2 separate regions of the Homo sapiens genome follow, and region 1 is reported to be linked to region 2. Evidence: microRNA targets listed by miRTarBase, many of them from high-throughput screens and not tested one by one. Region 2 holds a microRNA gene; the other region holds the end of a gene's coding sequence.

The links. The annotated mature microRNA hsa-miR-3200-3p reads CACCUUGCGCUACUCAGGUCUG and lies in region 2 at 1,206-1,227, opposite strand. An mRNA with a match to its seed (bases 2 to 7 or 8) in the 3' UTR can be bound and repressed. Matches are read on the target gene's strand: a 7mer-m8 pairs with bases 2 to 8, a 7mer-A1 pairs with bases 2 to 7 and ends in A, and an 8mer does both.
Region 1: the mRNA of RPL23 is a reported target of hsa-miR-3200-3p. Seed matches in the 3' UTR shown: 7mer-A1 at 2,294-2,300.

What each region holds. Positions count from the first base shown.
Region 1 is chr17:38,847,369-38,850,900 of GRCh38, reverse strand. RPL23 (ribosomal protein L23) reads left to right here. Exons shown (of 5, transcript NM_000978.4): 4 at 426-539; 5 at 687-3,041. The coding sequence ends at 769. LOC124903994 (a long non-coding RNA gene) reads right to left here. Exons shown (of 3, transcript XR_007065743.1): 3 at 2,611-2,636. Among named protein-coding and RNA genes, the nearest start is that of SNORA21B, 2.5 kb to the left of the region's middle.
Region 2 is chr22:30,729,837-30,732,836 of GRCh38, reverse strand. MIR3200 (microRNA 3200) reads right to left here and starts at 1,280; the gene lies at 1,196-1,280. The region is part of intron 1 of OSBP2 (oxysterol binding protein 2); the gene reads right to left.

The DNA of each region.
Region 1 (3,532 bases), not on the chromosome of region 2:
TTCAGTGATACTGGGATCTTAATAACCTACCTGTAAGGTGAAGTTGGAAAAGGCATAGGCAAGGATAGTTGTCCTGAGAGTTTTACACTTGTGAGAAAATACTGGCAGCTTTGATTTTAAGATGTGAATAGATGATCGTGGTTCATGCCTTTACTCCCTATACTCCCAGCACTTTGGGAGGCCAGGCTTGCCAACATGGCAAAACCCTGTCTCTATGAAAAAAAAAAAAAAATCTGGGCATGGTAGTGTGCACCTGTAGTCCAAGATACTAGAGAGGCTGAGGTGGGAGGATCACCTTGAAGATTGATATTTACACTGTCACTGTCTCAAACGCTGAGTGTACATTCTGTCTAGTTGGAAACTGCTTTTGTGGTGGCACTGCGACTTGACAGGTTAATGACTGCTGTCCTTTTTTCTTCTCTCAGTACATCCAGCAGTGGTCATTCGACAACGAAAGTCATACCGTAGAAAAGATGGCGTGTTTCTTTATTTTGAAGATAATGCAGGAGTCATAGTGAACAATAAAGGCGAGATGAAAGGTAGGAAATCAGTCCAGCTTGTTCCTTAGGTCTCTGAGGTTGGGTGGATTGTCTAGAAGTACAGGCCAAGGATCTTCTGTGTTTGACGATGTCTTAATCTGTCCCCCACATGTTTTTATTTTATTTTATTTTATTTTTTTAATGCAGGTTCTGCCATTACAGGACCAGTAGCAAAGGAGTGTGCAGACTTGTGGCCCCGGATTGCATCCAATGCTGGCAGCATTGCATGATTCTCCAGTATATTTGTAAAAAATAAAAAAAAAAACTAAACCCATTAAAAAGTATTTGTTTGCAGTGCTTGTCTCCCTGTTCACTTCCAGGGTTCAAGCGATTCTCCTGCCTCAGCCTCCTAAGTAGCTGGGATTACAGGCACCTGCCGTCATGCCTGGCTAGTTTTTGTATTTTTGGTGGAGACAGGGTTTCACCATGTTTGCCAAACGACTCAAACTCCTGATCTCAAGTGATCTGCCCACCCAGGCCTCTACAGTGTTTTTGACATACCCTGACCATCACTTTTCTGAAATGGAAACTCTGGGCATTTTTTTTTTAAAGCAATCCTTGCTTTTTTGTGAGTTTGCAGACTTTCAGCATCTTCCAATTGCTGTATTTACAATTTTGGCCTCAAAAAGTATTATTTGGGTTTTGAGTCCCAAAAATAATAGTAGATACTGCTCAATGACTGGCTATACATGGTAGCTTCTCCTGGAGTGAGGAAGGCATTCAAATGGCTGGGCGCGGTAGCTGGCACCTGTAATCCCAACACTTTCGGAGGCCAAGGCAGGCAGATCATGAGGTCAGGAGTTCAAGACCAGGCTGACCAACGTGGTGAAACCTCCTCTTTTCTAAAAATACAAAAATTAGCTGGGCGTGGTGGCGCACCGCCTGTAATCTCAGCTACTGAGAGAATCGCTTGAACCTGGGAGGTGGAGTTTGCAGCGAGTCGAGATTGCACCATTGTACTCCATCCAGCCTGGGCAACGGAGCAAGATTCCGTTCCCGCCCCCGCCCCAAAAAAAGGCATTGAAGTTAAGATAGACTATATAGTTAGATCCTGGACACACACATGGATTTTGAGGAATGATGTGAGTTTGTTTATGTATGTACATTTTAGCAGTTAACAGATTTGGAGTAAATTGAATATTTATAAAACAACAGTAATTGCCATGTAGGTTTACTGTCATAGTGGAAGATGATTAAGTTGATGGTACCTACAGGTATTTTGCTATGAAAATGTTTTGACAAACAGGATGATCGTGTAATTTATGTTCCAAGCTCTAGTTTGAGAATGGAAGAATGTGGTAAATTTTTGCCAACTGAACAGGCATAAAGCGCTGATAATAAGGGACTTGGCCTTAAGGTAGGAGGTTGTTAGCATTTCTTTCTAAACGTGTAAGAGTTTATTTAGGTGACACCCAGCGTTTTGGAAAAATGGGTGTTTGTTTAGAACAATAATTTGGAGGGAAGTGGACTAAACAGGGTTTTTAGATTAAGGTTTGTGTTTATGTATCTGTATCTGCAAATACTCAGCCATAAATGTTTCTACCTGTAAGTTGGGTATAATACAAGCTCCACTTGGTATCAAAAAGGACTACCCTTAGTGTCTTCCATGACTAGTTATGGAATGTACCAGACCTAGAGAGGAGTTGTTCTAACCTGGAGCTTTTGAAAATGTTTCCGGTCCATACCCTAGACCAATTAAGTCAGACTGCAGAATAGGACTCAGACATCAGAATTGTGAAGCTCCCAGGAGATGTCAAGGTATACCCAAGACTGAGAACCAGTACCCTGTCTAGACTGAACCAGGCTTGGTTTTAGAAGTATTAAATCTCGCCTGGGTACGGTGGCTCACACCTATAATCCCAGCACTTTGGGAGGCTGAGGTGGGTGGATCATCTGAGGTCAGGAGAGTGAGACCAGCCTGTCCAACATGTTGAAACCCCATCTCTACTATACAAAATTAGCCAGGCATGGTGGTGCATGCTGTAATCCCAGCTACTTGGGAGGCTGAGGCAGGAGAATTGCTTGAACCCCGGAGATGGAGGTTGCAGTGAGCTGAGGTCGCACGATTGTGCTCCAGCCTGGGCAACCAGTGAAACTCTGGGGGGAAAGAAAAAAAATGTATTAAATCTCTAGTTTTAGAGAGTTACACCATAACATCCCTGAGTATGGTCAATTTCAAGTCAGCTTTAGTGTGACAAGCCCCTAGGCCCACCATTTATGTCTTTATATATTATGGCAATATATGATCCTTATATATTAACCACTAATCGCTGCTGTTTTTGAATGTTATCTTTTCTGAGGCAGTCTTGCTCTGTCACACAGGCTGGAGTGCAGTAACACCACTGAAGCTCACTGTAACTTTGAACTGCTGGACTTGGAATCCTCCTGCTGTGGCCTTCAAAGGGCTGCAATTACAAGTGTGAGCCACTGCATCCCACCTCACATTTTATTCTTTGGAGATTTTTTTTGACTTGGATTAAAAAACTTTATATTTACACTTCACTAAATGTTTTCCTTTGTCAGCTGGGCATGGTGGCTCACACCTGTAATCCCAGCACTTTGGGAGGCCGAGATGGGCTGATCACCTGAGGTGAGGAGTTCAAGACCAGCCTGGCCAACATGGTGAAATCTCGTCTCTACTAAAAATACAAAATTAGCTGGGCGTGGTGACGCGTGCCTGTAGTCCCAATTACTCCGCAGGCTGAGGCAGGAGAATTGCTTGAACCCAAGAGGCAGGGGTTGCAGTGGCGGAAGTTGCAGTGAGCCAGGGAGACTCCATCTCACTCCTGGGCTCCAAGAGACTCCTGGGCTCTTGTTGCCCAGGCTTGAGTGCAGTGGTGCAATCTCAGCTCACTGCAACCTCTGCCTCCTGGGTTCTAGCGATTCTCCTGCCTCAGCCTCCCGAGTACCTGTGACTACAGGTGCCCGCCACCACGCTAGGCTGATTTTTGTATCTTTTTTTTTTTTTTTTTTTTTTTTTTTTTTAGCATTTT
Region 2 (3,000 bases):
AAAACAATGGAATGGCCTACTGGCTTAGCGGGGACACCGAGGGAGAAATACCCCTCAGGTTTGAGCCTCTGTCCTCCAGGATGCCTTGAGCTGACAACTGATATCTGGTGCCATGTCCCCCACAGCTACAGCAGACAGGTCCAGGAGTGGCCCTGCTCACCATCACGCATGGTTGCCCTTTGCAAGGTGTGTGCTTCCCATCCTCACACACTTGGGATCAGCTGGGTTAGAGGATCTAGTCCTGGGGTAAGGGAGGAATGTGAAACAAAGATTCCACTGATCTGGACACTGCCACAACCACTTGGCCACCTACGGCTCCTCATGCCAGTGACCAACAAAGAGGGGAGTGACTCTACTGCCAGGGGAGTGACTCTACTGCCAGGGGAGTGACTCTACCGCCAGGGGTCACTGATCCTAATTGCCATGAGGAATTAGGTGAGTGGCCCATTTGGAAATGGGAGGAGAATGTCTGGAATAAAACCCAGAGGACTCCTTGGGATATCTCTTATTTTTATTTATTTATTTATTTTTTGAGACAGAGTTTCACTCTTGTTGCCCAGGCTGGAGTGCAATGGCGCTATCTCGGCTTTCTGCAACCTCCGCCTCCCAGGTTCAAGTGATTCTCCTGTCTCAGCCTCCCGAGTAGCTGGGACTATAGGCACCCGTCACCACGCCCAGCTAATTTTTGTATTTTTAGTAGAGATGGGGTTTCACCATGTTAGTGAGGCTGGTCTTGAACCCCTGACCTCAGGTGATCTTTCCACCTTGGCCTCCCAAAGTGCTGGGATTACAGGCATGAGCCACTGTGCCTAGCACCGGTATCTCTTAACATTTCCATGATTGGTAACGGCTGATAATGAGCAAGGCCAACAACACATGCAGACCACTCAGCGCAAACATCACAGACCAGCCAGAGTGCTGGCGGAGAGTGGAGAGGGTCTAGGGTGGGTAGTGCAGGAGGGAAATGATGAGTAACAATGAGCACACCAGGACCGGCCACAGCAGCAGCAGATGACCTTGTTTCACAACCTTCTTGCTTTATTCTTCCTGGTAACCCCAGTGGGCCAGCACCAGGAAATGGCTTCTGTCACTGATGGGATTTGTACCTTCCTGCTCAGGGAAGGAATGAGGATGTTTTTGTTCTCCAAGGAAAACGGAGATTCCCACATTGAAGTAGGAGAGCTGATATCATGGGAGGGCACGAGCAGACCTGAGTAGCGCAAGGTGTGGACTGTATTGGACACAAACCTTGTGCGCCTTCTCAGATTCCCTCGACCACCTCCTTCTTTGTCTCTCTCGATGATGCCTCATCCAGGTCACGCCGTACCTCCACTTCTGGGCTTGTATGAAATGCCACCGTGGAAAATAGGATATGAAAAGAACAGGTCAGATGAATCTCCCCCCACTCTTCCCTCCACGGATGGCTCTGAGGTGTATTTTCTTCTTGTGTAAGTTCTGGAAAAGTCCATGTGCCAGGCAAGCATGCTTGCTGAGCGACCCACCGTGTCTCTGTAGCTCGCTGTGAAGTCTCATCCAGCAAGGGAATGAGCTGGGTGGTCACTTTGATCTCTCCTCTGCCACTTGCCATTGCTCCTTCACTGCCCTGGGATTGCACCTCCCAAAGTGTCAGCTCTTTATTTTTCATTTATTTATTTATTTATTTGAGATGGAGTCTCACTCTGCCGCCCAGGCTGGAGTGCAGTGGCGCGATCTCGGCTCACTGCAACCTCCACCTCCTGGGTTCAAGCGATTCTCCTCCCTCAGCCTCCCGAGTAGCTGGGACTATAGGCGCCCGCCACCACGCCTGGCTAATTTTTTGCATCTTTAGTAAAGACAGGGTTTCACAGTGTTAGTCAGGATGGTCTCGATCTCCTGACCTCGTGATCCACCTGCCTCGGCCACCCAAAGTGCTGGGATTACAGGCGTGAGGCACCGCGCCCGGCCAGCATTAGCTCTTTAATCCCTGCCTTGGGCTATGTTTTCCAGAAGCCCTTCCCCAAAAATGTCCATGGGAAAAAAAAAAAAAATTATATATATATATATATATATATATATATATATAGAGAGAGAGAGAGAGAGAGAGAGAGAGAGAGAGAGAGAGAGAGAGAGAGAGAGAGAGACAGGGCAGCGAATCTGAATCCAGATGCACAGAAAGACCAAAAGCTACCACTCTGGAGCAAAGTACTTAGTCTTATATGGAACTTCCATTCAATGCAAGCTCAAGGTGACCCTGATTCACTGTGAAATTCCCATCCAACCTTCTGCATTCTAATTCAGCAAGCACTTCCTGTGGGCTACTATATAAAGGAACTGTGCTAGAAACTGGGGAGGGAGTAGATACAAAAATAAATACGACACATCTTTCTGGCCTCAATGGTCTAGCTTGGGAAGGACACAGGCCTGTAAATGACAAGCCACTGTTTGTTAACAATAAGTGGGGGGAAATAAATTCAAAATAAGGGAGGTGCTCACTCCATGAAAATTCACTAGCTACATCCTCGTAATTGACCAGTTTTTCTGCATGTATGTTATACTTTTATACTTTATAAAAATTGGCTTTAAAAGCAAACTCCAGGCTGGGTGCGGTGGCTCGCGCCTGTAATCCCAGGACTTCGGGAGGCCGAGGTCGTCAAATCACTTGAAGTCAGGAGTTTGAGACTAGCCTGGGAAACATGGTGAAATCCCGTCTCTACTAAAAATACAAAAATTAGTCAGGCATGGTGGCATGCGCCTGTAGTCCCAGCTACTTGGAAGGCTGAGACACGAGAATCGCTTGAACCTGGGAGGCAGAGGTTGCAGTGAGCCGAGCGAGATTGTGCCACTGCACTCCAGCCTGGGTGACAGAGGGAGACTCCATCTCAAAAAAAAACCCCAAAAAACAAAAAAACCCAGAAATTTATTATCTCACACTTCTGGAGGCTAGAAACCCATAATCAACGTGTTGAAGTCCACAAGAGCTGAAGTCCACGAGAGCCTGGCTAATTTTTGTATTTTTAGTAG